Homo sapiens: one gene and its partners. The protein of the gene in region 1 interacts with the protein of each later gene in a pairwise test. Each region holds a gene or a part of one and is shown in the gene's direction. Other genes may lie near its edges. The genes, in order: TNNT2, MLX and PPP2R5A.

Region 1 (10,116 bases):
GATCACTAGAGCCTTGTATGCTGTGCCAAGGCCTATGGGGTCTGAGCTGGAAGGACAGGATCAGATTTGAGGTAGGAGCAGCCATGTGGAGAGCTCACGGTGGCAGGCTGGGAGAGCAGGTAAGTGGCGATTGCTGTGATGGGGAAGACGGAAAGGAAGGACCTGCTTTGGGAGGTGTTTTGCAGTGGAAATGACAAGGTATGGGGGAGAAGGGATGTCCTATTGAATGGGACGTTTCTTGGAAGTGGAGGGAAATCCCTGGCGTCTGTAAGTTCCTCATGTTGGCCAAGTCAACACAGCCTGCTGTGTGATGGAGGGCCACATTCTCTTGGCCACAATGAGAACGTGTGATGGGGCTGCTCCTCAGGCCCTGGGGGCAGGCCTGGTCTCCCTGGGTGTCTCACTTGGCTCGCCTGTTCCATCTTCCATCCTGCAGTGCCAGCATGAAGCTCCCAGACAACACAGTGAAGTTGGGAGAGAAGCTGGAGAGATACCACACGGCCATACGGGTGGGTGGGGGCTTCTCCTGAGGGGCGGAGGGTGCAGGATGAGTAGTGGGCATGGCCCTTTCCCCTCCCCAGCATGGGTCAGCTGTTGGTGTTCTTGGTTCCCAGAGATCAGAATCTGTCAAGTCTCGGGGTCTGCCTTGCACTGAGTTATTCGTGGCTCCTGTGGGTGTAGCCAGCAAGCGCCACCTCTTTGAGAAGGAACTGGCGGGCCAGAGCCGAGCAGAACCAGCCTCCAGCCGGAAGGTGAGGGGCTCAGGCCCCACAGGGTCCTTAGGGTGATTAGCCCTGACGTCTCCAAAACCCAAATCTTGGCTGTGGCAATGCTAGAAAACTGTTTTCATGTGTCAATTAATGTTGGCAGAACCTCCATTTGAGTTCCCATTCACGTTCCTGAGCCCATCTCCTTAGCTGGGCACACAGCTCCCTGGGGGAAGGGGAGGGGGCTGTCCCAGGTATATGTGGCATGTGCTGGATGCATAGGGGAGTGAGGGAGAGTCCTATCCCATTCCAGGGCCTCTGAACATGCCTCGCTGCTGCCAAGGGCCCTAAACCCTGAGATGGAAAGTTCTCTTTTTAGGAGAACTTGAGGCTCTCAGGGGTTGTGACATCAAGGCTCAACCTGTGGATCAGCAGGACCCAGGAATCTGGAGATCAGGACCCCCAGGTATCCTCACCCTCCCTGATGTCTCTTACTGTGGAGCCTTTGTGGTGGGATGACTGGGGACAGAGGAGGGACAGTCGGGAGAGGAGGAGTCATTTCGGGAGAGGAGGAGTCATTTCGGGAGAGGAGGAGTCATTTCAGGAGTGGAGGCAGTCGGGAATAGATGGGTGTGTGGGTCAGACTCTGGCAGAGAGGAGGGGTGGGTCTGGGTTCCTTTTCTCTTTTGGGAAGAGAAAGGACATCCTGGGCTGGGAGCTGGGCCTGGGGTATCCCGAGCCCTTTGGAGCCTGGTCTTAGTCTCTGGTCTCCACCCTGATACCCTCAATCAGGAGGCACAGAAAGCATCATCTGCAACCGAGAGGACTCAGTGGGGACAGAAATCTGACTCCTCGCTGGACGCTGAGGTGAATGGTGGGGAGGAGCCTGGCCCTACGGCGGAGGGCCACGGTGTACTGTGGGAGACCCCATCGTCCCCGTGTGCACACACTAATTGGCCTGCAATCGCGCAGTCCACCCAGAACGCCCCCATCCCTGCTCATGCAGATTGGTCTGAGCCAACCGTGAGAACAAGGTTGAGCCCTCACCTGGTTGTGCTGCCTGCAGCTCTGCAGAGCCCCTCCCTCTTCAGCTGGCAGATTACAGGGCTCTGACTCCTTGTGGGTGTGGGGCTTGGGCAAAGGGATGCCTTCCTATCCAGTGGCCCCCTTCCCCTTCCATCCCTGACACCCCATTGACTTGTGCTAACAGCTCTTTGCCCCACAGGTGTGACAAGCCCCGCCAAGACAGACCTGCAAGTCTTCGTCTCAAGGGACCTCCCTCATGCCAGGCCCCTGCCTCTCACAGCAGCACCCTTTCCTCTCATTGTCCCTGTTCCCTTTTTGCCTGTGGATCTGTTTGGCCAGGGTCCCTGGGGTCAGGAATATTTGCAAGACTCAGCCAGCTCCTTCCCAGCCCAGCCTCTTGGGGCTGGGACTTTCTCACCCTGCGGCAGGCACAACAGATGCTGGGACCCAGTCTCTGCCCAGGTCACAGCACAAGTGCACATCAGCACTATGGGGCCTATGTCCTGCCCAGAGACCTCTGCTCCTTCCTGCTCACATCCACAGTCAGGGCACGGCGCCCCTCAAGAACTCCAGAGTCACCTGTCTCATCGGCTCCCAGCAAGTGCCTCTTTGTCTATGATGTCCCCCTTCTCTGAGGCCTGGACCCACCCATCTTTGTCCCTGGGGCCTGCTCCCAGCCACTGAGGCCCGCTCTGGCCAGGGGAGAAGGAGCTGCCGTGCGTCTTCCCTGTGCCCCGTCTCCCTGCTTGGTTCTCCCCTCCCTTCCCTGGCCGGCTGCCATGGCCAGGAGCTAAGTGCCTTTTTGTGTGCAACCACTTACCCTTTCTCTGAAAAACCTGTTCTCAGGAAGGATCTGATAAACTCATTTACTCTCAGGTGTAAGAGACTGATGAGACCTTAGAAGCGAATTCCTCTCTGGAGGCCTTGCTTTCTAGCAGAGGTCACCTGAAGTGTGTGAGGAGGATCATCATTTTCCTCATCCCCCCTCTTCTCACATTAAGGTGGTGGCTTGCCACTCAGCAGTCCTAGCTTGGTGACTGGGAACTGCCACATACAGGGCCAGGCCTACCCTCCTTCCCCACAAGCCCCCTCCAACCCCCACCCCCATGCTCTGGACCTCATGGCTCCTATGAGCTTGGAGCATGGTGAACCATCAGAGAATCTAGAACCAACCAAGCTAGGAACATCAGCCTGGTGCCCTGTTAACCCCTTAAAGCTGTGGTTTACAACTTTTCAAAAATTTAAATCATTAGAACTCTCCATCTTGATTGACTGCCCTAGTTTTACCCAGAATCAGCTGGGGATGTGGCCAGGTGCAGAGCCCCCTGCCCATTCCCCCTTTGCATGCCTGGGGAAGCTCCAGGTCTTTTTGGAACACGACCCTTAACACGGCTCCTAAGGGGGTATCACCAGTCCAGTTCCCCAAGTGTGTGGGGGATGAGCCCTAGCCCTACTCTGTGACTCTGGGTGAGGGCTCCTCAGATCTGTGCCCCAGGGGACAGGCCCTCAAAGTGCCATCCGTGCTCAGGTCCCAGTGCCCCAGGCTGACCCACCTCTGGTCAGTGAGTCTCCTGTGCCTGAGTGAGGGATATCGGGACCTGGGGTCCCTGCCCCGAGCACCTCCCACCCACTGCTAGTGCTGGGGCTTTGTGAGTGTTCCAACTTCATAGCCGAGAGTTGGAGGACAAGGCTGGGGCAGGGCCGAGGAACGGATTGAGTCCTGCCTAAGCCTCGGGACATCTAAACAGCTCTGGCTCTGCCCAGACCTCAGGTGTGACCCTGAGCCATTTTCCTTCTCTGAACTTCAAGCAGATGACCTCAGAGAACTTTCATATGTTCATGCCATGATAGGTGAACTTTTCCAGTAAACAAAACTGTCCCCACACAGAGGAGAGGCTCCTGGAGGCCTTCACCTGGCAGGGCCTGACCGTGGAGTAAGAGCCTAGGAAGACACTGAGGGGCCTGTTCCTGCAGCTGCAGCCTCAGCAGGGCCCTTCATGCCTGCACCCCCCTCCCCTGGGGTGCCCAGTGAGGGCTGACTGCTAGGGGAAATGTCGGGGTGCTACAGCACAGCCCCCTCCCCTGTGAATCCAGCACGTGAGGGCCCTGCCCTCGTTCCTACTGGGGACGCAGCCAGTAAACAAGGAGACCAGGGTGTGCCCAAGATGACCTCAGCTGGGGATAGATGAGTGGTAGCGACTGGGTGTCCAGGCGGGTGGGGAGGCCTCTGGATGGGTGACATTGGGCACCTTCTGGAGACAGAACAGGGCTCCCACACACCACTCCGGGCTGCACCCTCCTGCTGTCTTGCCACAGGGGCCCTGTGCCCCACAAGTGGCCCGTCCTATTGTGGATCCTCAAATTTACATGCACTGTTTCAGCATAAGCCTCCCATTCCACTCTGGCTTTGTTTTCTCTTTACATCCCTTTGAAAGGACAGGGATATAAAAAAAAAATGGGCTAAGAGTAACCCTACTATGCCCAGGAGTGGCTGCTGCATGGGGGCTGGATTTCCTTATCTGAGAGGCTGTCTCACAGCGCTCTGAACGAAGCTCCTGCCTTAGAACAATTCGAAGCCATACACGTGTGGCCTGTGACACCAAGGATCTACTGGGCTTTTCCCATGGGGCTCAGTAGTGACCTAGGTGCCCAGATCCCTCTTCTAGGCATCCATGCAAATAAACCGTGGTCTGTTTGAAAGGTTATTGGGCTTACAAGGAACAGTAACCCACCCTCAAGTTAAAAAAGGGTTTGGGAAAAGTAATTCCGAATTCTACGTTACTCCAGGCCAGGACCCAAGGCAAGGCTGGGCCCTGCTTCGTGGGCTAGAATGGGAGAGAGAGATGATGGGGCTCCCCCCACTTTCTTGACAGCCTGACTCCTTCCTCACTATCCCTCGGGAATCTGTCCCCTCCATCTGCCTGTCTCTCTACAAAGTGCCCCTGCTTCCCTGTGGTGGTCCTCAGTCCCACAATGCTGGCCAGCGGGCGGTTGGCTTCAGCTTGCCCTGCCACAGATGTGCTGGCAGTGTGGAGGCCCACGTGGCAGGGCAATCAAGGCCACTGGACTCAGAGGCCACAGGGAACTATGGAGGGGATGGAGTCAGCTGAGTGATGGGACAAGAGTCTGACAGCAGCATGGGTGTGGAGCAAATGGCAGTCCCCTGCGCAGAGGACCCTTTCAAGGACATTAGTGGTGGAGGCAGCATAGTAGCTCCCAAGGCAGAGGGATTGAGAGAAGAGTTTGAGGACTGGGAAGGCGGGACACATGATTGGGTGATGGGAGAAGGGGGCAGAGAATAGCGAGATTGCTTTCTTTGCCCACGGAGAAACAGAGGAGTGTGGATCATGAATGGGCAAGATCTTTAAGTGCCAGGGGGGGTCATGGAGGAGGGGAGGGCCTGCTCCAGAGGAGGACCATTCCTGCTTCAGAGCCAAGCAGGACCTAGGCTGTGAAGATTCGGAGAAAGAGATGGAGGGGAGAGTCAGCTCAGCTGCTTACTGGCTTGCTTTCCTCCTGTCTCTTTCATTTTCATAATCTACCAAACCCTGCAATGGGCCAGCCTTGAACATACAAGTGCATGTGCATGGTCAGACACAGGCAAGCAAGCAAGACCCCTAGGCCTGACCTATGCATCTGCAATCTAGTAGGTTTAGCAGATCATAGCCCCGCACTGCTTGATTTTAAAGCCGTTAGGGGATGACCTTTGACAGTCCGCATCACCCCTCTCACACAACGAGCGCCTGTTCAAGGTTCTTGACTGGAAGTTCTACCTTGTATCTGGCCTCCTGTAGCAGTTTCAGTCCATTCCCTGTGAGGAGGGTGTGCCACATGGCTTTGGGGGTCATGGAGAAGACCCACCTTGCAGATGTCCTCACTGGGGCTGGCAGAGCCGGCAACCTGCCTAAGGCTGCTCAGTCCATTAGGAGCCAGTAGCCTGGAAGATGTCTTTACCCCCAGCATCAGTTCAAGTGGAGCAGCACATAACTCTTGCCCTCTGCCTTCCAAGATTCTGGTGCTGAGACTTATGGAGTGTCTTGGAGGTTGCCTTCTGCCCCCCAACCCTGCTCCCAGCTGGCCCTCCCAGGCCTGGGTTGCTGGCCTCTGCTTTATCAGGATTCTCAAGAGGGACAGCTGGTTTATGTTGCATGACTGTTCCCTGCATATCTGCTCTGGTTTTAAATAGCTTATCTGAGCAGCTGGAGGACCACATGGGCTTATATGGCGTGGGGTACATGTTCCTGTAGCCTTGTCCCTGGCACCTGCCAAAATAGCAGCCAACACCCCCCACCCCCACCGCCATCCCCCTGCCCCACCCGTCCCCTGTCGCACATTCCTCCCTCCGCAGGGCTGGCTCACCAGGCCCCAGCCCACATGCCTGCTTAAAGCCCTCTCCATCCTCTGCCTCACCCAGTCCCCGCTGAGACTGAGCAGACGCCTCCAGGATCTGTCGGCAGCTGCTGTTCTGAGGTAAGGCTCGGGCAGGGCTCTGGGGAAGAGGAGAGCAGAGAATGGACGGGGAGATGTGAGGGTCTTGGGCCCTGGCATATTTACCCAGAGTCTGCCTGTGTCCGCAGAAGTCCATGGCCCCTCCTGGTGGAGGCCACACTTCAGAGGACAGGTTGCCAGGTCTGGGCTCCAAGATTGGTACAATAGAGCAGAGAGAAAGAGAGAATCCCATGGTAGCCATTGGAGACTAGGGTTGGAGTCCTGGACCTGCCACTAAAGATGTAGAGTTTAAACTCTTGGATGAGTCACTTTCCCTCCCCAGGCCTCAGTTTTCTCATCTGTAGAGTGGGCTAAATATTTGCTAGGCCTCTGCCTGCTCTAAATACAATGAGGCTCTAACCAACAGAGACTCCCCTAAATTGCTTGTTCCAGGCCGAGGGTCACCTATACCTTTCCAGTCAGGTCCTTCTTGAGTCCCAGGGAGCAGAGCGAGACTGCAGCCCTGTCAGTCAAGTGAGTCTCCTGGTCATATTCTCAAGGCTAGGAACTCAGAAACTGTCCTGGAAGTACTGAGAACGACCAGATGTGCAGGGTCCTCTGCAGCGCCTCTCCAGGCCAACGCGGGAATTCCATTTGATGCCGCTGACTCAGTGCCATTCCCTCCCAGAGCTGAGCTGAGCTCCCAGACCCTGAGCTGAGCTGCACTTGGGGGGCAGATGGGGAAAGGCCCCACTGGGAGAACCTGTCCTTGGGTGTGAGCCCAGCTGGTTGGCATTAAAGGGTTTAACCTGGGCCCCCGTAAGTGTAACCCTTGTCCCATCCCACCCCAACACCCCATCTTGGGACAAGCCTTGCTCTGTGCCCAGGAGTGGTAGAGAAAGATTCCCTTGGTTTCTAGTTTCTCCTGGGCAGGCTGAGGACTATTCAGGGAGGGGGTTGCCTGGTGTGTAAGGAATTTCAGAGCACATTCCTGGCCTGCTGTAGCCGGGAAGCTACCTGCCCTCCCAAATTCCTTTTCTGACCCATGTCTTAGAGGGCGAATCTTCCTTCTCTCTGCAAAAGTGGAATCTGAGAGGATCAGGTTGCTGGCTGCCTCCTATTTCTGACCCCCACTTCCACTCTTCCTGCCCTCTCCCCATCCCCTTACCCCCGCTCTCCTGGTGGGCTAACAGCTGTTGGCTTAGGAAAATCCCATTCGAGTGCTGGGGACAAGGACTGAGGGGTGGGGCCTGTGTTTCTCAGAAACTCGGAGACTGTTTCTACAGGGACAGAACTCAAGGCTCTCCTGCTTTGTAGTTGGTTAACTGAAGTCAGAGAGGCTAGGTGACTTAAATAAGGCCACACAGCAAAATCTGGGTTTTAAGCCCAGATTTTTTGACCCCAAGGTCAGTATGCCTTATGCCTTCTATTGTCTTTGCTTTACTCCCCAAGAAAGGTGACCCTGTGAACGTGTTAGGCTTCCAACACGTGTTGGCTATGAATGCATTAGGCTAGAAAGCTGCCTGTGGAAGTGGGTGGGACTTGGGTGTGAGGACACAGGTGTTTCAGGACATTCTGGTTCCTTGCCCTGCCAGGTTCTTGACTCTCTCCCATTCTGCAGCCCCCAGTCTCAGCCCACCTCTTTCCCCTGCATCAGGTCCTGCCTTTGAGCCACTGGCATGGTGGTGTCCTCTGGGCTGGCTGAAAGCCCTCCTCCATCCTGCATGTCTGCATGCTATTTTTGGGAGCTGGATGGTGCCCCCAGGAACAGGGAGAGGAGTCCAAGCTGCTCTGTCCTCCTGTGAGGCCCCAGCACCATGCCCAGTGGCTCTGAACTGGTGGAAGGGCAGAGTAGGAGAGGAGAGAGAAAGCTAGAAGCTATGCGCCCAGGCTGGCCATGCACGGTTCCTCTGAGAATTTTCTCCCTCCCACTGAGGGACAAGCTTCTCCTGGGGCTCAGGTAGGAGCTCCTCAAGTTCTCAAGTCACTAGTTCTGGCCGCTCCCCTGGGGCTTTGGGTAACAATTGTCAGCCCCACCCATCCTAGGGTTAGGAAGGCTATTCTCTTTGGCCACTCTCATCCTAAGACCTATTTGGAGAACCTCTGGGGTTTGAGTCTTTTTTTCAGCAGAATGAGGCTTGATCCCGCATTATAGCACCTCGCACATTTGATGTCTCTTCTTCTCACCCACTCACCCCACCCTGGGGGTTGGGGCAAAAAAGTGGCTCAGAGCTGCGGTTCAGAGCTCCTTGTAAACAAGGCTCCTCCCTCACTGTCCTCACCCTGCTCCAGCAGAGGGAGCAGCGGAAGGACCACTCTGCTGCAGCCATGCTTGTTTCTAACCCAGCAGAACTGGACATAATGGGAACAGGGTCTGAAGACAATCAATCCAGGGCTGCAGTGGGTGCTGAGTCTGGGGAAGCCTCCACCTGGAGGGGCAGCTGGGCAGTGGCAGCTCCCTTGGAATGGCTCAGCCTCTGGACATCACCCCACCCAACCAGAGCCCTGGCTCTTGCTGGATGTCCACAGATGAGTGCCTGGGATTGGTCTCAGCCACTATGGGGGGGATGTGCAGGGAGAGGTGATGAGGGAGTGAGCAGGACTGTCTATGTGCCTCTGTCCTCATCCTGAGGCTTGGGTCTGAAATTGGTGCTGCAGCACTGGCACGCGTGAGTGGGGCAGGAGGTGGGCAGCAGGGGAGGAGCATTGGAGGGTGGTCCTGAGCATCATTTGGATTCTTCTCCCGCCTCACTTTAGCCTCACTCTCACATCACCCTGTCCATTCTCTCCCTTGGAAGCCAACATCAGGAAGGCTGTGGAGCTGGCATATTGCACTATAACAGAGGCTGCTGTTCACGTTTCAAACAACGTGATTGTGTCCCTGGAGCAGTGCACTGTCATGGCCCCGGAGGGTTGGGTCATAGTAGTTATTAGCTGAATGCCTACACTTCACACTACCTCTGTTCCTCACACCTACCCAAGAAGAGCAGTAATTTCACAGCAAAGAGAGCTGAGATGTGGGGAGGTTAAGTGACCTTGCCAAGGTCGCAGGCAAACGCATGCTGGAGCCAGCATTCAAAACGAGATTAGTCTCACACTCAAGTGCTTGCTCTCTGCCCCCTCCCTGTGATTACATGCTCATTGTAACACCTGATGTTGCCTAATGCCTTCCCCTTTTGTTAATGTCAACTGGAGCCTCGTAAAGACCCTGAGTAGCCAGGATGTGTACACTTTATCTCCATGAGACAGAGAAAGGACTGAGGTTTGGAGATGTTAAAAAGACTCGCCTAAACACCCTCGGCAAGCTAATGGAAGAGGATCTGAATCTAGATTATCTGTTCCCAGTGCAGTGAGAAGATGATCTCAGAATGAGTTCCCTGGGGGAACATTTTTTAATCGGAATTTTCATTGACATAATTAAAGACTAGTACACAGTTGTCTTTAATAACGAGCGTTTACACACGGTGCCTAGTTTCTCCCGAGGGCAACATTTGCAAAATTAGTACTATATCAAAACCAAGATTGGACATCAATACAATCAATCTATGATCTTATTCAGATTTGCCCACAATTGCACCATGTGTATGTGAAACTCTAAACAACTTTAACCTGTGGAGGTTCACGTATCCATCACCACAGTCTACATACTGAAAAGATCCCAAACCACAAGGATCCCCGCTGTGTGCTTTGATTTATTTATTTAGAGACAAGTTCTCACTCATTTGTCCAGGCCAGTCTCTTGGGGTGCCCAAAGACCTTTTGTCCAGGTCTCACTTTTGTCCAGCACACATGGAATGGGTGTGGTGGCTCACGCCTGTAATCTCAGCACTTCGAGAGGCTGAGGCAGGAGGATCCCTTGAGCCTGGGAGTTCGAAACAGCCTGGGCAATGTGGCAAAATCCCAGCTTTACTAAAAATACAAAAATTAGTCGGGCATGGTGGTGCACAACTATAGT
Region 2 (10,231 bases), on another chromosome or scaffold:
CACGCACCTCTATGCTGGCGCCGACGTCCACAGGCACTTGGACGTCAGAATCCTACTGACCAATATCCGAACCAAGAGCACCTTTCTCCCTCCCCTGCCCACCTCAGTCCAGAATCTCGCCCACCCGCCAGAAGTCGTGTTGACAGATTTCCAGACCCTGGATGGAAGCCAGTACAACCCGGTCAAACAGCAGCTAGTGCGTTACGCCACCAGCTGTTACAGCTGTTGTCCGCGACTGGCCTCGGTGCTGCTATACTCCGATTATGGGATAGGAGAAGTGCCCGTGGAGCCCCTGGATGTCCCCTTACCCTCCACGATCAGGCCAGCTTCCCCCGTGGCCGGGTCTCCAAAGCAGCCGGTGCGTGGCTACTACCGTGGCGCTGTCGGTGGCACGTTTGACCGCCTGCACAACGCCCACAAGGTGTTGCTCAGTGTCGCGTGCATCCTGGCCCAGGAGCAGCTTGTGGTGGGAGTAGCAGACAAAGATCTGTTGAAGAGTGAGTAAGAGGGACCCTGGACTAGGGTGGAGGATCCCCAAATCTCCCCACCCCCGACCCTTATGCCGAGATCAAGGAAGGGTAGGGCCATTCATTACTTCCCACCCTTCCCAAATGTCACAGTGGTTGACACTCAATTGGTGCTAAGGCCATTTTGTCAAATGAACAGCTTTCTCAGCATGTGGTCCAGTCACCACTCAATCAGAATACCCCAAATGTGAAGCAAAGGGATCTGCATTTTAGCAAGTTTTCCAGGTGATACACCCTAATGAGACACTGGGAATGAATGGGTGAGTGAGCTGCAGGTAGCAGTGCCACAGACAGGAGGAGGAAACTCAAGCATGGCATGGGTCTTGGAATTTTCCATCTGCCTCTGATGCCCTCTGGCACTGCTCGTTCTCTGGAGTGGTTTCCTGGTGGCTTATTCTCTGGACACATGCCAGCCCTTGGAGTGACTATTGTGCTTGCCTGTTTCTTCACCTTCATGCTCCCCTCACCATCACCATAGGCCTTACCAGTTGAACCCTTTCTGCCACCCCCTCTGGGGATACTGTACTTAGGGACACTTTTTCCCAAACTGGCCCATACTCTCCTCCCCAATAAAAAGATCTCACTGTTCTTCTGGGCTCCTTCCCCAGGCAAGTTGCTCCCTGAGCTGCTCCAACCTTATACAGAACGTGTGGAACATCTGAGTGAATTCCTGGTGGACATCAAGCCCTCCTTGACTTTTGATGTCATCCCCCTGCTGGACCCCTATGGGCCCGCTGGCTCTGACCCCTCCCTGGAGTTCCTGGTGGTCAGCGAGGAGACCTATCGTGGGGGGATGGCCATCAACCGCTTCCGCCTTGAGAATGTAACCCCTGAGGGAGACTGGCAGAGGGAGTGGATGGGGGACGGGGAAGGCCATTTTGAGGGGGCTGTTGGAAGTACCATGGCCCCAGAGGAGAGAAGTGGGGGCTCAGGGTGGTGGGAAGAAGCAAGGAGGAACTGGTTCTCAGTTTGCCCGCTGAGTCGGAGGAGGAGGAGCCTGGGTAGGAAGGGGAGGATGGGGGGGCAGGTTGGATGTCAGGGTCTTCCTCTCACTCCCTCCTTCCCTCTTTTTACCCTTTCCTCTTTACCCCAGGACCTGGAGGAACTTGCTTTGTACCAGATCCAGCTGCTGAAGGACCTCAGACATACAGAGAATGAAGAGGACAAAGTCAGCTCCTCCAGCTTCCGCCAGCGAATGTTGGGGAACCTGCTTCGGCCTCCATATGTAAGCTCCTCTCCCTCCTTCCCTCCTGCTTGGTGTCCTGGCAATGCTGGAGAGTAGAAGCTGAGGGGCTCAGCCCCAGGCATGAGGCTGAGGGCCCCAGTAACTGTGGGTTCCCTTTCACCTATCCCCAGGAAAGGCCAGAGCTCCCCACATGTCTCTATGTAATTGGGCTGACTGGCATCAGTGGCTCTGGGAAGAGCTCAATAGCTCAGCGACTGAAGGGCCTGGGGGCGTTTGTCATTGACAGTGACCACCTGGGTCATCGGGCCTATGCCCCAGGTGGCCCTGCCTACCAGCCTGTGGTGGAGGCCTTTGGAACAGGTAATAACTGGGGAAGGCTGAAAGTGGCCTGGAGTGAGGAGCTAGCCAGGCCTCTGTGCTCAGTTGTCTGTCTGTGTTGTCCAGATATTCTCCATAAAGATGGCATCATCAACAGGAAGGTCCTAGGCAGCCGGGTGTTTGGGAATAAGGTAAACAATAACTTCCTAAGGGCTCCTAAGCCGCTACTAGACCCAGGGGTCAGGGTCCAGTGGACCTCTCTGGTCTGGCCCAGAATGCCATTTCCATTGATCTGTTCCCAACACCACCTTGCTCGGGCTGGCTGCCTCTTCTAGAGAAGGTAACCTCTGCCCTCTGTTCCCCTCCCCAGAAGCAGCTGAAGATACTCACGGACATTATGTGGCCAATTATCGCAAAGCTGGCCCGAGAGGAGATGGATCGGGCTGTGGCTGAGGGTGAGTGGGAGGGAGGATGGCAACAGCTAAGGGGACAGTTAAGCTGTTTCTTCCCCTGGGAGCTTCCCTGCCCAACGTGGGACTGTCTGTTCACCCTGGGACTGTGTTCTGCCTGGGAGAACGTCGGCACTGCTGGCGGTGACTGGGGTCTCCCCACAGGAAAGCGTGTGTGTGTGATTGATGCCGCTGTGTTGCTTGAAGCCGGCTGGCAGAACCTGGTCCATGAGGTGTGGACTGCTGTCATCCCAGAGACTGAGGTATCTCGCCCCACCCCCCACACCATCCCTACTGCAGATCCTATCCTGTGAGCTGGAATTCTTCCTGACAAATGTCTCGTCTGTGCTCAGGCTGTAAGACGCATTGTGGAGAGGGATGGCCTCAGTGAAGCCGCGGCTCAAAGCCGGCTGCAGAGCCAGATGAGCGGGCAGCAGCTTGTGGAACAGAGCCACGTGGTGCTCAGCACCTTGTGGGAGCCGCATATCACCCAACGCCAGGTTGGTGCCCAGGGCAAGGCCGGGTTGTGGGGAAGGAGTCTCCAGTGGGTACTGCCTGACCCTGCCCTCTCTTCCTCCCAACATCCTGGCCTGTCTGAAGGTGGAGAAAGCCTGGGCCCTCTTGCAGAAGCGCATTCCCAAGACTCATCAGGCCCTCGACTGAAAAGTTCTCAGTGGGGCCAGACTGGCTCCTGGAGCTGACAAGCGACCCCGTGGTGAGGAGAAATGGGGGCCTTGATGCTCACCCTGGTTCAGGCCCAGAGGTCCAAGCTATACTGTGCAGGACATGGCCAGGCCTGGTGGACACAGGAAGCCTACCCAACACGCTGGTATTTGGCCAACACTGAGGATGTGGTTCATGGGGGAGCAGTCCCCTCCCCACTCTTGCCCATGGGTGACTCTTACCCACAGCTGACTAGGGCCAGCGCAAATACTGGAACCTGTAACAGAATTAAAGGTGAATGTTCTGAGATGTTGCTTGTATGGTGTCTGCTTCCTGTTCCAATGCCCCTAAGTATCTTTGGGATCCTTAAGCCACAAGTGCAGGGCCCAGGCCTGAGCTGGAAGCCTGGGCAATGCAGTGGTTAAGAGAATGGCCTTTGAGGCTAGCCAGAGGCGAGCTTTGGCCCTCCCACTGACCAGCTGTGTTCTTCTGAGTAAGGTGTAGACTTTCTAGGTACTGCCGTGTTTTATTGTTTTTGTTTTGTTTTTAATATGAGAGGCCGCATAACCTAGCTAGCAGGTTCTTTGCAAGGGTTCATTCCACATGCATCCTGCCAGACACTGGGCTGGGTGTTGGAAGATCAGCCTTCCGCGCGCCAGGCGGGGCCTCTGCCCTCACAGAGCTTGCAGCCTGGTGGGGTCGGACGATGTGGCTGGGGGCTTCTCTGCCCGGTTCCTGACACACCGGCCAGCAGTGCAGGTCCGGTGAGCGCGGGGAGGCCGCCCTCAGGGTAACGTGGGGAGCCGGCCGGCCGGACAGTGCGCGTGCACACACTATCTGCGGCGGTGTGCTGACAAGCCAATTGAGGGGACTCCATCTTACAAAACGCGCTTCATGTCGCCGCCATTCCACTGCCTAACCCGGGGAGGGCAGGCACGGCGGGGAGCAGTCTCGAAGGAGGCTGGCGCCAGGCCAAGCGCCGGGCCTTGACGGCTGGAACCGTGGAGTAAAGTCTTTGGGCTGCGCATGCGCGATGCTTCGCCCTGCCCCACCTCTCGGTCGCGGATTGGCGGGCGCGGGTCACGTGGGCACGCCACCCGCTTCCTCGCCGCAGGGGGCCCGCCCGCTGGCCCGTTTCCGGTCCGGTGGGTACAAGATGACGGAGCCGGGCGCCTCTCCCGAGGACCCTTGGGTCAAGGCAAGCCCCGTGGGCGCGCACGCCGGCGAGGGGAGGGCGGGTCGGGCTCGTGCACGTAGGGGGGCCGGAAGACGAGGGGCTTCCCTCCTGTCCCCAAAGTCCCCCACGCTCTCCGTGCCCCGGGGCTGCAGAGAAGACAGCTCTCACCCCGCGTGTGCCAAGGTGGGGAGACAAACGAGGCGTGTGCGCGCGAGTCGGGGGAACGGGGCACTGGGGTGGAGTAGGGGCGGAAGGGATCATACACAGGGGAGGCACTCGCACGCCCTAGCCTGTGCCAGTCTCGGGGGACTCATTAAGCTGCCCGCGCACCCCGGGCTGTGTGTGTGCAAGCGCGCAGGGTGACAGAGGCGCCTTCCCGGAATGGGGGGCGCGCTGTGCGTGCCTGCAGTGGAAGGGGCGCCTCCCCCTAGGGGCGGAGGTCTGACGGGCCCTTCCCGTGCTCTGTGCCGCAGGTGGAGTATGCCTACAGCGACAACAGCCTGGACCCCGGTGAGTAGCTGCCCCATCTTAAGCTCTAGAGGGACACTCCCGCCCAGGCTCTCTAGATTCTTGTGGCGTTGCCAACCACGCCTGAGCACAGTCCACTCTCCCTGAGCAGAGTTCCTGGCTTGAGACAGCAGGAGCTGAAGGACAAGGGCAGAAAACAACTGAGGGTGACACCTAGTTCCCTCTGCTCTGGAACAGGGAAGTGGTGGAACTGATCACTCACCACTCAGTGGAGCAGCTGATCACTCACACCCTCATCACGTCCACATGCCCGTTTGTGAGCCAGGGGGGTATCATGCAGGCCTATGGAGCAGTGTAGACACTAGGGAGCAGAGCACTGCAGCGTGGTCTGGCAGGAAGTGGGGGGCCCAGTATGGTTGGCTTTGGGTTGAAGGGAAGAGGTCAGCATTTAAGAAAGCCATTGTGTGGCCGGGCGCGGTGGCTCACCCCTGTAATCCCAGCACTTTGGGAGGCCGAGGCAGGCGGATCACGAGGTCAGGAGACCGAGACCATCCTGGCTAACACGGTGAAACCCCGTCTCCACTAAAAAATACAAAAAAATTAGCCGGGCGTGGTGGCGGGCGCCTGTAGTCCCAGCTACTCGGGAGGCTGAGGCAGGAGAATGGCGTGAACCTGGGAGGCGGAGCTTGCAGTGAGCCGAGATCGCGCCACTGCACTCTAGCCTGGGCGACTGAGCGAGACTCTGTCTAAAAAAAAAATAAATAAATAAAAGAAAGCCATTGTGTCCTACAGGTGTCTGAGGGTCTGGCAATGTTCCCCACCCCACCCCTTAGTGATTGGGGCCTCTCTTTTCCAGGGCTTTTTGTAGAAAGCACCCGCAAGGGGAGTGTAGTGTCCAGAGCTAATAGCATCGGTTCCACCAGTGCCTCTTCTGTCCCCAACACAGGTAGGCAGTAACATCCCCCCCGACCTCGGGGGGCTCAGATATGTCATAATTGTAGTACCTTTCCTAGACAGGGAAGCCCCAGCCATCCACACAGGGGTGCTGGAGCCAAAGTATCAGACACAAGGTCTCACCATCTTTCACCTCATCTGGAACATTAGGTGGTTCTGTCCATCTGCCTTCTCTGGACACCAGGTTCTTCCCAGCTGGGGAAAGGTGGGCTAGCTGGACCCCACTGGGCCCCAAGATGACCTTTCCCTGCCCCCATCTCTGAGCGTAGATGATGAGGACAGTGATTACCACCAGGAGGCCTACAAGGAGTCCTACAAAGACCGGCGGCGGCGCGCACACACTCAGGCTGAGCAGAAGAGGAGGGACGCCATCAAGGTGAACAGGGAGGCCTGTGCCTCAGCCAGTGCGGGAGGGCCCTGCATAGTTTAGCTTCCCTGTGCCCTGACCCACTCAGACAGTCCCAGGCACCCTAGGGGGTGGGCAGGTAGTATAGTCCCAGGCACAAACACCTCCCTTGCAGCCTTCCCACCCCATTGAGTTTGTGAGCATAGAACTTGGTGTCATGGAGGAACTTTGTGCCATTTTGCTTTAATCTCTCAGGGTTAAAGAACCCATTTCCCCTGCTGTTTCCACAGAGAGGCTATGATGACCTTCAGACCATCGTCCCCACTTGCCAGCAGCAGGACTTCTCCATTGGCTCCCAAAAGCTCAGCAAAGCCATCGTTCTACAAAAGAGTATGGCTAGGGAAAGCACTGGAGGGGATGGAGCCAAGCGGGGCTGTGAAGAGGCCAGTGCCTCCTACCCACCCATGGCTCGGCCTTGGTGTGGTGATTGCCATGGGATAGTTGGGGTCTGGGGTAAGGGGAACAAAGTCAGCCTTATCTTCTTGGTTGAGAATACTTCTGTACCTGTCCTTTTTTTCTTGCCCCCACCCTAGCCATTGACTACATTCAGTTTTTGCACAAGGAGAAGAAAAAGCAGGAGGAGGAGGTGTCCACGTTACGCAAGGATGTCACCGCCCTAAAGATCATGAAAGTGTAAGAGGGGTGCTGAATGGGGGGAACCAGAACTTCTGAGGCAACTTCATTGCACACCCTCCCTTGTTCAAAGGCCACATCAGTTACTGCTGTACAGATAATACTCTTAGTTCCTGAGCTAGCCAGTAGGACTGTGTATCCCCAACTGTCCTTACACATGGCAGACACTCAGGAAATGCCTGTTGGATTAATGTAAGGAAGGTTGGAGAGAGAGGGCCACCTTTCCTGACCTGGAAGCAGTATCTCCCTGATACTGAACCCCACCCAGAAGCTCTCTGGGGCTGCCATTCCTGGGAGTACACAGGATAGTCCCGTCATTCTTCTTGGGTGGGCGGAGCTGCTGCAGCACCTCAGCCCTGGCCTGCATGCTTTTAGGAACTATGAGCAGATTGTGAAGGCACACCAGGACAACCCCCATGAAGGGGAGGACCAGGTCTCTGACCAGGTCAAGTTCAACGTGTTTCAAGGCATCATGGATTCCCTGTTCCAGTCCTTCAATGCCTCCATCTCAGTGGCCAGCTTCCAGGAGCTGTCAGCGTGTGTCTTCAGCTGGATCGAGGAGCACTGTAAGCCTCAGGTATGGGGCAACAATAGGCACAGGGTCTGCGGTTTTCTCTACCATCAAGCAAAGTGGCCCAAGCCATCAGCTGTTGAGAAAAGCGTGGCAGCTGCTTTTAGATCTTAAGGGCGTTTCTACAGCTTTGAGGGCCCTGGTATTTTCCCTTTTCTTTGCTGTCTAACCCACATCTTCATGTTACGGTTTCATTCGGCAAGTGTGACGTGAGCTCAATGTGAAGTCCAGCTCTTGGCTTTTGTCTAGCCCATGTTATCGCTGCCCCTGTATGGAAGCCCCAGGCATCTGCAGCAGAATTGGAAACGCAAATTCTGGGACCCTACCTTTAGGCCCCCTAAAGTAGTTGCCCCAAGAGCTTTTTAAAAATTTATTTATAATGGAGATGTGCTAATGGTATTGCACTAAGTCTTCTAATTGAAGTCTGGTTGCTTTTTCTGAGGTTTTAAACTTGTGTCTGAGATTTCTTGTTTGTTTCTCAACATTTTTTTTTTTGAGACGGGAGTCTCGTTCTGTCGCCCAGGCTGGAGTGCAGTGGCACAATCTCGGCTCACTGCAACCTCCGCCTCCCGGGTTCACGCCATTCTCCTGCCTCAGCCTCCCGAGTAGCTGGGACTACAGGCGTGTGCCACCATACCTGGCCAATTTTTTGTATTTTTTAGTAAGACGGGGTTTCACCGTGTTAGCCAGGATGGTCTCGATCTCCTGACCTTGTGATCCACCCGCCTCGGCCTCCCAAAGTGCTGGGATTACAGGCATGAGCCACTGTGCCTGGCCTCGTTTCCCAACATTTTTATTGTGAAACACATTAAACATATTGCGATGTTGAGAGGAGTTCACAGTGAACACTCGTATACCCGCTCCCTAAATTTTACCGAAACATTTTACTATATTTCCATCTCTCCATCTTGCTTCAGGAGCACCTCAAATTAAACTGCAGACATCAGTACTTCCTGGGGGCTTTTTTTTTTTTTTTTTGAGACGGAGTCTCACTCTGTCACCAAGGCTGGAGTGCAGTGGTGTGATGTCAGCTCACTGCAACTTCCACCTCCTGGGTTCAGGCGATTCTCATACCTCAGCCTCCTGTGTAGCTGGGATTACAGGCATGTGCCACCACACCTAATTTTTGTATTTTTAGTAGAGACGGGGTTTCACTATGTTGGCCAGGCTGGTCTTGAAATTCAGGTGATCCACCCGCCTTGGCCTCCCGAAGTGCTGGGATTATAGGCGTGAGCCACCACACCTGGCCCCCGGGGGGCTATTTTTAAAGCACTTTTCTAAAGTACATGGCTGATCTAGGCAGGCATCTTGGAAACTACTCTGCGTTGACTTGGGCATTGTCTATTTCTTCCTCTGCTGCCCTCGCCAGACCCTGCGGGAGATTGTGATTGGCGTCCTGCACCAATTGAAAAACCAGCTTTACTGACCGGTTCTTGGAAACCTGGAGAACAGCCAACAAGAGGCCCTTGAATCTCTACGTGGCCACTGAACTGCTGGGCCCGGGAGACTGGACTACAACACCTCACACTGGTCAGCTGGTTTCTACTTGGTGTTTGGTTTTTCCCAGCCCCATTTTATCTTCAGCGGAGCCGCGGTGTTTGTTTTGTGAAAGCTTCTGATTAATTTATTATATTGACGATAAAACTCAAACCTACCCAGCCTTCCCCCCACTCCATGGAAGTCCTTGGGATGGGCGTCTGCTCTGGACACCCCAAAGAGCTCCTGCCCTCTCAGCCCTTTATTCAAGCCTCAGATTTCTGCTCATGATCTACATAGATTTGGAAACTGTTTTCCTCTGTTTTGGTCTCTTGGGCAACATTTTTGGCCCAAGTTTGGGCAACATTTGGCCCAAGTTTGGGCATTTTGGCAGTAGCTGTATGGGAGAAAAAGAGTAAGAGGAAATATTCCCACAGCCATGAAGGGTGAAAGGGCACCTTGTGCCTAGACTAGGGCTGCCTGGTCAGTCCCAGGTGAGGCCAAGGGCTTTCTGGCCATCTCAGGGAGGGGCCACCAGGTTCCTCCCCTCACCCCATATTCCATCACCTTCCTCCTCTGCTCTGGGTGGTAAGGGAAGCCCTCCCGGTTCCCACAGGCTATGATGCTGCATGGCAGAGGCAGGTATAACACAGCACTACATATTGGAAATTTTTTATTTTTCTAAATACCAATGCAGTTTTGCTACGGTTACAATTTTGAAATATTAACTGAGCCTCAAAATCACCCTTTCTGTCAAGCATATCTTGGCCTCTCCCATGTCTCAGTGTTGCCTGCATTTCTCCCAGGACTTGGGGGTGGGGTGAAAAGCGTACAAAAGATACTTAAAAGGGCTCCTGGGGTACACAAGCCCAGCAGGTCCTGAGTGAAGCCGTGGGCCCTCCAAATGCTCGTTTTATAGCAACCTCTCTCTACCCTAGTTCTCCAAATTCACTTCTGCCTTCCTCAGGTTTGATATCTGGCAGGTTTGACTATCCAGAGGAAATTAAATATTTTTATATAAAATTAAATTATAATAAATATTGCCAAATGCTTTCCTTTAGCATTGTTCCAAGTCTAAATGTTAACCTCAAGCTACTGCAATTTAGACAATGAAATGGGCTGGGTCTACCCCCAGCCACCAGCCCTCATCCTCTCTACCCAGTGCTCTGGTTTATGCTTGTCTCCTGACTGCTCTGCTTAAAGGTGAAAGTAGCAGGAACAACAACAAAAGCCAACCAAAAACAAGGTAGCCAGTGCAAGACATCTCACTCTTCTGACATCCTGCAGTCCCCACCAGTCCTGACCGTGGGCCCCTCAGGGGTCTGGGAGTGTGACGTTGTAATCTTCATCCGTCTCTATCCCAACTTCCTCCTGTGAGACAGGGAGACAAGTGAATGAGATGT
Region 3 (9,957 bases), about 11 Mb from region 1:
TTTCACCACATTGGCCAGGCTGGTCTTGAACTCCTGGCCTCAAGGGATCCTCCCACCTCAGCCTCCTAAAGAGCTAGGATTACAGGTGTGAGCCACTGCACTGGCCAAAGGCCCCTTTTTAACTATATGGAATTGGCTGGCCCCAAAGAAAATTGTGAAGTAGACCAAACCTTTCTAGGCATTTCTAGGCCTGAGTATGCAGGCCTCTTTAGGAATTTGATGCTGAGGCCAGGATTAAAATCATTGCAAGGACCTTTCCTACCCTTCAGACCGCTTTGTATGTGCCCTATGATAAAAATTCTACTAATGTGAGTTTGGTATATTTAGAGCTGATCTTTGGTCATTCATAACTACCCTTGACCTCATATAAAGTATTCTGACCTGTTGCTGTGAAGGATTGATAAATGAAGAACATTGTCAGCCTAAAATATTTCCTTCAACCATTGAAGTAGCTCTTCATAAACTATAAAGAAATATTAGGTGTGTATTAACAGTAACATATACATTTTAATCATGACTAAAAATTACATTAAATGGAGTTATGTTATTTTGGTAATTGCAAATGAATGCCTGTTTATTTCCTTGTGCAGCTCTTGTGTGGGATACATTAGGGAGCTCTAGTAATGCCATATGAAATTGTATTTAATACAGTAACAGGTTGAGGGGAACAATTGCCTTAGTGCTTTGTTAGTCTAGAGCTTGAGGTATTTAAGCTGCTGTATTATTTTGTGGTGTGAGGGGAGCAAAAAGAAAACTGGTGGGGCAGGATCTGTTTTCTACCTTCTACTTTAAATGCTTGAATTATCTGAGAAGCTAGGGCCCAGTAATTGCTTTTAGCAGTTTATATGGCTGTTTTGCTCTTGTTGCCCAGGCTGGAGTGCAGTGGCTGGATCTTGGCTCACTGCAACCTCGGCCTCCCAGGTTCAAGCGATTCTCCTGGATCAGCCTCCCAAGTAGCTGGGACTGCAAATGTGCCGACATGCCTGGCTAATTTTTGTTTGTACTTTTAGTAGAGACAGGGTTTTACTGTGTTGGCCAGGCCGGTATCAAATCCCTGACCTCAAGTGATCCGCCTGCCTTGGCCTCCCAAAGTGCTGGGATTACAGTTGAGAGCCACTTTGCCCGGCTGCCATTTTTAATTAGAATAATTTGATGTGAACTTATTAGATATATTAACAAAAATTCTCATACTCCGTAGATATTTTTTGCTGGAGTCTCATGAGGGCCTTAACAGCCTAGCAAACAAAGAATGGAAACTATAAGTATGGCAGTTGTTTTGGGAGATATAAATATGATTTAAGTCATCCACTCTGGTTTCAGATGCATGTGTTAGCAATTGTATATAATTCAAAACAAAATGGAATAAGAACTTCTGATGAGGTTCAGAGCTTGCTATCTTTATTGTAATTATAAACACGAAAGTTCAGAACATAAAATTCCTTGACAGCTTTACAGATACTTGTACTCTAGAGAGAGTATTTTATATTTTTCTAAGAAAATCCAATGTTTAAAATACAGTGTTTTTTTTGACAGAAGAAATTAAGTTTCTTTACCATTTTAAATGGAAATTTGAGATTTTGACTTTAACTTTTTCTAAAGTCTCTTCTCTCAGGTTTTGCTGAAAAGTTGTGCAGAATATAGGAGTACACTGATTGGGCCAATTGAGGTATAGGAGAGTGCTGACTGTGGAACTGGTTTAAAATTTTTCAGCTATTTGCTAAGCTGAAAAATCTATGGGCTGGGCATAGTGGCTCACGCCTATAATCCTGGCACTTTGGGACACCGAGGAGGGTGGATCGCTTGAACTCAGGAGTTTGAGACCAGCCTGGGCAACATGGTGAAACCCCGTCTCTACCAAAAAATATATAAATTAGCTGGGTGTGGTGGCATGTGCCTGTAGTCCCAGCTAGTTGGGAGGCTGAGGCAGGAGGATCTTCTGACCCCAGGAGGTCGAGGCTGCAGTGAGTTGTGATTGCATCACTACCCTCCAGTCTAGGCTACAGAGCAAGACTGTCTTAAAAAAAAAAAAAAAAAAATTTGGCCTCATCTTTTAGTCCAGTGTTATTTTATATATGATTTCTACTCTATTAGTATGTATCTGCCAATATTTTATTCTAATAACTGAATGTTAATTTTTCAAATGTCTGCATGGTAACTGTCTTGAATTTATTGTAAATTCACAAAAAGAAGTCTTAGTATATGTACATCTTTCTAGTAAACTAGAAATATACATTTACACATGGATCTTTTTAAGACTATTTGATGACTTGCAATCTAAAAACTTAAACGATTTTCTATGTAGTTTTGACGATCAAAAAGCATTAAAAATCCCAAATTTTAACACTCCAAAATTGTGAGCCTCTTTAGTATTCAAGAGTAGGATTGAATTTTAAAATCAGTGGGAAGGTAAAGAAAAATCCACTTTTTGAAATATTTATATTTATTGTAAATGTCATATTTTGAAGTGAAATAAGTGAGAAGAAATATTTCCTAAGCTTTTCCTCACCTTCATTACTTAGCAAGAATAAAGTCAGTGTGGTAAGGAAGAACTCTAAAAAATTTTTAAAAGATGTCATGGATAATCTTTAAGATCAAAATTAGAATAAAGCTTTAGCTCGATTATTTTTTAAAAGTAATTTCTCAGGTTTCTTTTAAAGCTCCTGGAGCTTTTTGATAGTGAAGATCCCAGAGAACGTGACTTCCTGAAGACTGTTCTGCACCGAATTTATGGGAAATTTCTTGGATTAAGAGCATTCATCAGAAAACAAATTAACAACATTTTCCTCAGGTAAATTAATCATTTATTGTATATTGCACCTTTTCCTCCTACATATCTTCTTGTATTCAAGTTCTTTTATTTTTATTTGTTTTTTTGAGACAGGGTCTCACTCTGTCATCCAGGCTGGAGTGCAGTGGTGAGAACATAGCTCATTGTAGCCCCCATCTCCCAGACTCAAGCAATCTTCCTCTCTCAGCCTGCCAAGTAGTGAGACTACAGGTGTGCACCACCACGCCTGGGTAATTTTTTTGACTTTTAGTAGAGACAAGGTCTATGTACTGTATGTACGTAGTATATATATGTAACATATATATGTAACATAGTATATATGTGTAACATATATATGTAACGTAGTATATATGTAACATACTATGTATGTTGCCCAGGCTGGTCTTGAACTCCTGAACTCAAGCAGTCCTCTTATATGGGGCCTATCATTTGCTTGTAGTCATCCCTCAGTATCTGGGGAGGATTGATTCCAGGGCCCCTGCTAATAGCAGAATCCAAAGTCCCTTATATAAAATGGCACAGTATTTGCATATAACGTCCACACATCCTCCTGTATACTTTATTTCTAGATTACTTACAATACTTAATACAGTGTGAATGCTGTGCAAATAGATGTTATTCTATATTTTAAATTTGTATTTATTTTTCAAAAATATTTTTGATCTGTAGTTGGTTGAATGCACAGATAATGAAACCTGCGGATACAGGGCCAAGTGTACTTTATAAATATTAATCTGTTAAGTAGTTGCTTCAGATCAGGAGATTTCATAACAACACCCACATTCAAGGTTTGGTTTGTTTAATTAATTGAAGATCTGGCAAAATTTGGTTACTATTCCCACATTGCAACAATTAGAGATGAGTAATATCTGCCTCCTCTAGAGTGAATATCTTTCTCCAGTTCTCTGTCATCACTTCCTAAGCCCATTTCAAATATCTGCCCTATTATATTTATGTCTCCCTGCTTTAAAGGCAGCCCTAATCTTGGAAAGCTATGCAGCCTATATAGTTAGAGGTGTAAAGAAATTCTGATTAAAAATGGCTTTATTACATATGGGTCTTTTTCTCTTGGATTTCCCTATAATTAGAGGTTTCTTATTTTAAAAAGTATTTCTTTGAGGAAACTTATCTTTCTTATTAATTATTAAGTTGAATATTCCAGGTGAAATGACAATCTGTTATCTTCACATATGGCGAGTTTTGGCAAAGGCATATGTAGTTCAGTAGGAAACATCTTCTTTTTTAAGATTGATATGAATTAACTGTTTGGGGCAAAACTGCTTATAAGACCCAAAACATGCTTGTGTGTTTCTAATAGCTGTCCTTTGGATTGATTTCTTCACCCTCCTGCCTGTTTCTCTTAGTTTTCTGAAGTTTGATTTTGATTACATCTTGTCTTTATTTTAAATTCAGGTTTATATATGAAACAGAACATTTCAATGGTGTTGCTGAACTTCTTGAAATATTAGGAAGGTAGGTCAGGTTTTTTTGTTCTTTTTAAGAATTAAGTAAGTGAATGTTTTATGTATTAAAATCTTAGCTGGGGTTGGAGAAATTATGTCATATTTTAGAGTTTAAATGTAGAACACATAGTTTCTCAACTGAAGTCTTTTTTTTTTTTTTGAGACGGAGTTTCGCTCTTGTTGCCCAGGCTGGAGTGCAATGGCGCGTTCTCGGCTCACTGCAACCTCTGCCTCCCGGGTTCAAGAGATTCCCCAGCCTCAGCCTCCTGAGTAGCTGGGATTACAGGTGCCTGCCACCACACCCAACGAATTTTTTAATTTTTATTTTTAGTAGCGATGGGGTTTCACCGTGTTGGCCAGGCTGGTCTTGAACTCCTGACCTCAGGCAATCCACCCCCTTCGGCCTCCCACAGTGCTGGGATTACAGGCGTGAGCCACCATGCCCAGCCTCAGCTGAATTCTTATTACCTTTTGCCATAACACTTTGCCTTCCTTATTCACTACGTATTAGTATTAAGAGAATTTTAGACCCTTCTGTTACTATTTAGACAATGATTTTAGTTTCCTTTATTAATAGTAGAAAATGATTGTGGAGAGAACTACTTCTTTCACGTTATCCAACAAAGTAAGAAAAATTACCCATTTACTTCAGAAAAATATTGAACATTCTAACAATATTGTGGTACTGACTCTCCTGGAGCTTTGGGGGCAAAAATAAAAGCAACAATGCATAAAGTGACAGGTTTGATAGAAAATGAAGATAGAAATTACTTGGGAATTAATTGACAGTCCTAATTTTCTTTTGGAATCATCAAATGACTTAGAGGAACAGACTTCATAGTAATAGTCTTCCTAAAGTAGTTTGAAGATGAGCAGTCATACAACACCAGGATTGAAGCATAGCACTGTTCCTTATGTACTCATGGATATGACAGCTTTTAGAAACAAAGTAGTAACTACTTAACCCTTCCCCTGCCTTTTTTTCCCTCCAGTATTATCAATGGCTTTGCATTGCCACTGAAAGCAGAACATAAACAATTTCTAATGAAGGTTCTTATTCCTATGCATACTGCAAAAGGATTAGCTTTGTTTCATGCTCAGGTAAGTTTCAGAAACATTTCAGATGAAATGAATATTATTTCAAAGGCCAATATAAAGGCAGAGAAATTGAGAAATACTGAGATGACAGTTTTAAGTATAATTAAGCAATTTGCTTACAAAATTACCCAAAGCAAATTTTTCTTATTTTAAAGTATTTAGTTGTTAAGTAAGACCAATTATTTAATTTCTATATCTACACTTACAGTTTAAGATACACACTTTCCTCATATTATAGTCCAGGTCTTGACCTAATTATGTGACTTTGAATAAATCCCACATATCTACAGAATGTTTCTTCCAGCTGCAATAACCTAGACCTAGTTAGAGAGATTTTGGTCTCTTCTATTAATATTTAGAGAATAATATATCAGCATAGGTGTACATGTAGAAACATGCTGAAAAACTAAATTGTTAGCTCTAGTCTTATTTCAGTTAACTTTATAGTCAGAAATTACTACTAAAAATGTTTTTTAAACTTGAAGTTACTTTCAAGGCTAAAAAGTTACACAATTGTGAGTATAGTTTCACGATTGAGGTATTTCACAATTTCATTCACAGTTGTGAGTATATTTTTATATATTGGAATAATTTATCAAAATGAGGTAGTCTAAAAAATATTGGCTAAATATAAAAATCCTACATTATTAAATGTTATCTCACTAATATTTATAAACTGTCCCTTACCTTTTAGCTAGCATATTGTGTTGTACAGTTCCTGGAGAAAGATACAACACTAACAGAGCCAGTAAGTGTTCTATTTATTTTCATGTTTTTGGTCTGCATTAATAGCATTTCATTGTAGCTTTCGTTTTATAGCCTTTATAGTTATTAAGTAGAATAATGTACGTTAAGCTAAAATCATTTAGAAGAAGAAATGTGAGATTAATCTACATTAAAAGAAGGGGTTAGGAGGGGAGAGTTCTCGTGAGTTATGTCTTGAATAACCGAAATATAGACTACTATTAATATGTAGTAGTTAAGATGTACGATGATAGGATCAGATGACCACAGTGAAATTTTATATGCATACTGTCTTCACCAATAATCTTTTAAATCTTCATTCACCTTTTGGAATTAAAGCATACTTCGAGGGTCCCAAAACTACTACTCCCTTGAATTTTGTTTTGTTTTTAATAATAGAATTTTTGCCACTCATTAACAATAAACCACTTGATAGGGATAGAAAACATTTCCTTGCTTTTGGTGATTAAGATATAAGATGTAATCTTGGAATAAAAGTAGTTTATGAACCAGCAAGGCAACTTAGGCTTTGAATTCTACTGTTATTTGCCTCTAGAATGAAAATTCAGGAGAGAGTGAAAACATAATTAGTTATGAAAATTTACTGAGGATTCAAGAAAAACAAAAGATGAAGTAGGGTGAAACAGAAAAGTATAAAAGCATAGAAAACATTTTAACCTTGGTGAAGTAAGTATTTTGAGAGAATGCTTTCTAGGCATGTTCAGTCTAAATATTTACCTAGTATTAGGTTGGTACAAAAGTGATTGCGGCTTTTGCCATTACTTTTAATGGCAAAAACCACAATCACTTTAGCAGCAACCTAATAAATATTTAGTAAATAGCAAAGGGTTTGAAAAACTAAAATATATATGTATTTTTACTATATTATGAACCTTCTCAGGCTATCCGTAGGGATGCTTGAAAAAATCATATACTTAGTATTCTCCCTTTCACTTGAACTTTGTGTAATGGAACAAAAGACATTTTTCCACTCCTTAATTTTTATTAGTTTTTTGACTTTTAGATTTACAGTCTTTTCTAGAAACAGCTGTAAACAGTTTTTGAAGACAATTCAGGAGAATTAGAAACCATATATTTGTACATGAAACCACATAAACCTCTGAAGTTGATTCCCAGGTGTGCAGTGGCTCACAACTGTAATCCCAGCACTTTGGGAGGCTGAGGCAGGCAGATAACTTGAGGCCAGGAGTTTGAGACCAGCCTGGCCAACATGGTGAAACCCTGTCTCTAGTTAAAATACAAAAATTAGCTGGGCATGGTGGCACAGGCCTGTGGTCCCAGCTACTCAGATGGCAAGGGCACAAGAATTGCTTGAATCCAGGAGGCGTAGGTTGCAGTGATCTGAGCTCATACCAGTGCACTCCAGCCTGGGCAACAGAGTGAGACTCTGTCTTCAAAAAAAAAAAGAAAAAAGTAAAACCTTAATACAAATCTATGATAACTCCCATTAGAATTAAGAAAAAGAAAACCCATAATAACACATATTGAAAAGTCATGGTTCATGCTTGGTAAATAGTATACAAATAAAATTTTATTTAATTAATTTGGGGTGGATAAGGAAGACAGGTGATTTATTTTTAAAGAATGGAAGATAGAGGCTGGGCATGGTGGTTCATGCCTGTAATCCCAGCACTTTGGGAGGCCGAGGCAGGCGGATCACCTCAGGTCAGGAGTTCAAGATCAGCCTGATCAACATGGTGAAACCCCATTTCTACTTAAAAAAAAAAAAAAAAAATTAGCTGGGCATGGTGGCGTGTGCCTGTAATCTCAGCTACTAGGGAGGCCGAGGCACAAGAATCACTTGAACCCTGGAGGCGGAGGTTACAGTGAGCCGAGATGACACAAAAAAAAAAACAAAAAAACAAAAAACCTTGACGATTAGGGAGAGGGATGATGGCCAGTTATTCAGCTTTTATCTGGTTTGGCTGAGTTGGGTTAATGAAAATAGGAGCAGGATGAGGAGAGAGAGTAAGATAAATACCCAGGTTAAGAAAGGAAAATATTTTCCAACTCATAAAGATCTCTCGATATAGAGATCTTGCAATTTCTAACATAGGCCATTCCAGCACCAAAATTACGGCCATATTACTTGGGTTTAAGCCTTAATACTAATTTTCTGGAAAGCAGGCATTCCTATCAAAGCTTTCTACAAATTATAAGTAGCTCAGAGCTTTTGTTAGTTTATTACTCAAGCCTGTAATCCCAGCACTTTGGGAGGCTGAGGCAGGCAGATCACCTGAGATCAGGAGTTCAAGACCAGCCTGGCCAACATGATGAAACCCCATCCCTACTAAAAATACAAAAATTAGCCGGGCGTGATGGCGGGCACCTGTAATCCCAGCTACTTGGGAGACTGAGGCAGAATTGCTTGAGGCAGGAGAATGGCTTGAACCCAGGAGGGCAGAGGTTGCAGTGAGCCGAGATCACAGCACTGCACTCCAGCCTGGGCAACAGAGTGAGACTCCGTCTAAAAAGAAAAAAGTGCAGAGTGGAAGAATTAACTAAATATTCATTACAGCTAAGTTTCCATGTAAAGAGGAAAAAAATGAAGAGTCGGCATGACTTTCAAAACTTTTATTTTTTTGGCAGTGTAAACCTTTCCTTCCACTCAAAGCTGCATTTTTATAAAACAAGCAAAACAAAACAAAACACCGTTCTTATTCCAAGAAAATCTAACTTGAGCCCCAAAATAATTTTTTTATTTTTCTTTTTTATTTTATTTTATATTTTATTTTATTATTTTATTTTTATTTTATTTTATATTTTATTTATTTTTTTGAGACAGAGACTCACTCTGTTGCCCAGGCTGGAGTGCAGTCAGTGGCACCATCTCGGCTCACTGCAACCTCCACCTCCTGGGTTCACGCAATTCTTGTTCCTTAGCCTCCTGAGTAGCTGAGATAACAGGCGCCCGATACCACGCCCGGCTAGGTTTTTTTTTGTATTTTTAGTAGAGATGGAGTTTCATCATGTTGCCCAGGCTGGTCTCAAACTCCTAAGATCAGGCAGTGTGCCTTCCTTGGCCTTCCAAAGTGCTAGGATTACAGTTGTAAGCCACTGCACCTGGCCCACATTGACATCTTTTTGGGGGCCACTAGTCAACCCAGTGTTCGTTATTCAATACTGCCCGACATTGAAATTTGTGTATGATGAGGGTAAGGAACTACATTTGGGTTTGTTTGTTTGTGTTTTGGGTTTTTTTTTTTTTCAGACAGGATCTCACCACATCACCCAGGATGGAGTGCAGTAGTACGATTGTGGCTGACGGCAGCCCTGACCTCCCAGGCTCAGGTGATCCTCCTGCCTTAGCCTCCCAAGTAGCTGGGACTACAGGCATGCACCACCATGCCCAGCTAATTTTTTTGTATTTTTGGTAAAGATGAGATGGGGTTTCACCATGATGCCCAGGCTGGTATTGATCTCTTGGGCCCAAGCCTGCCTTGGCCTCCCAAAGTGCTGGGATTAAAGGCCTGAGCCACCATGCCTGGCCTGCATTCATTTTCAATTACGCATATCAAATGATCACAAAATTTATTGGCTTAAAATAGCAAGCATTTATGGCCTTTATCAAAGCTGCAGCTGCTTCCATGTAGCTGCTGTGGTCAAAAAGAAGCCAAGAGTGACAGTTTTCCTTGATGGTCATAGTTCTGTTTGCTGTAACTGATCTGCAAGATTTTGGGAAAATACCATTCCATTGGGAGGAAAAATGACAAGCATTTGTTGCCTTAGTTGCTGTGAATCCAGAATCTGGTCATGGCTTAGGTGGGCCCTCTGCTCAGGGTCTCTTACAAAGCTGCAGTTGGAGTGTTGGCCAGAAGTTGAGTCTCATATAAAGTGTCAGAT

The links.
Region 2: the proteins of TNNT2 (region 1) and MLX interact in binary tests that used the Homo sapiens proteins (3 or more experiments, as listed by UniProt).
Region 3: the proteins of TNNT2 (region 1) and PPP2R5A interact in binary tests that used the Homo sapiens proteins (3 or more experiments, as listed by UniProt).

Annotation. Positions count from the first base shown.
Region 1 is NC_000001.11:201,373,710-201,383,825, reverse strand, and holds the start of TNNT2 (troponin T, cardiac muscle), read left to right. Parts: upstream 1-6,145; 5' UTR 6,146-6,203; intron 6,204-10,116. Other genes in the region: LAD1 (ladinin-1), read left to right, coding at 437-509, 615-752, 1,087-1,173, 1,500-1,574, 1,933-1,938. UniProt on the Homo sapiens protein: Troponin T is the tropomyosin-binding subunit of troponin, the thin filament regulatory complex which confers calcium-sensitivity to striated muscle actomyosin ATPase activity.
Region 2 is NC_000017.11:42,562,826-42,573,056, forward strand, and holds the start of MLX (max-like protein X), read left to right. Parts: upstream 1-4,274; 5' UTR 4,275-4,299; coding exon 4,300-4,341; coding exon of another isoform or gene 4,342-4,503; intron 4,504-4,793; coding exon 4,794-4,830; intron 4,831-5,644; coding exon 5,645-5,734; intron 5,735-6,011; coding exon 6,012-6,118; intron 6,119-6,378; coding exon 6,379-6,478; intron 6,479-6,681; coding exon 6,682-6,781; intron 6,782-7,156; coding exon 7,157-7,358; intron 7,359-8,721; coding exon 8,722-8,778; 3' UTR 8,779-10,142; coding exon of another isoform or gene 10,143-10,199; 3' UTR 10,200-10,231. Other genes in the region: COASY (bifunctional coenzyme A synthase), read left to right, coding at 1-497, 1,136-1,350, 1,621-1,752, 1,884-2,073, 2,158-2,222, 2,402-2,486, 2,646-2,743, 2,834-2,980 and 1 more; PSMC3IP (homologous-pairing protein 2 homolog), read right to left, coding at 10,143-10,199. UniProt on the Homo sapiens protein: Transcription regulator. Forms a sequence-specific DNA-binding protein complex with MAD1, MAD4, MNT, WBSCR14 and MLXIP which recognizes the core sequence 5'-CACGTG-3'. The TCFL4-MAD1, TCFL4-MAD4, TCFL4-WBSCR14 complexes are transcriptional repressors.
Region 3 is NC_000001.11:212,343,146-212,353,102, forward strand, and holds part of PPP2R5A (serine/threonine-protein phosphatase 2A 56 kDa regulatory subunit alpha isoform), read left to right. Parts: intron 1-2,657; coding exon 2,658-2,788; intron 2,789-4,201; coding exon 4,202-4,261; intron 4,262-5,243; coding exon 5,244-5,352; intron 5,353-6,043; coding exon 6,044-6,097; intron 6,098-9,672; exon of another isoform or gene 9,673-9,805; intron 9,806-9,957. UniProt on the Homo sapiens protein: The B regulatory subunit might modulate substrate selectivity and catalytic activity, and might also direct the localization of the catalytic enzyme to a particular subcellular compartment.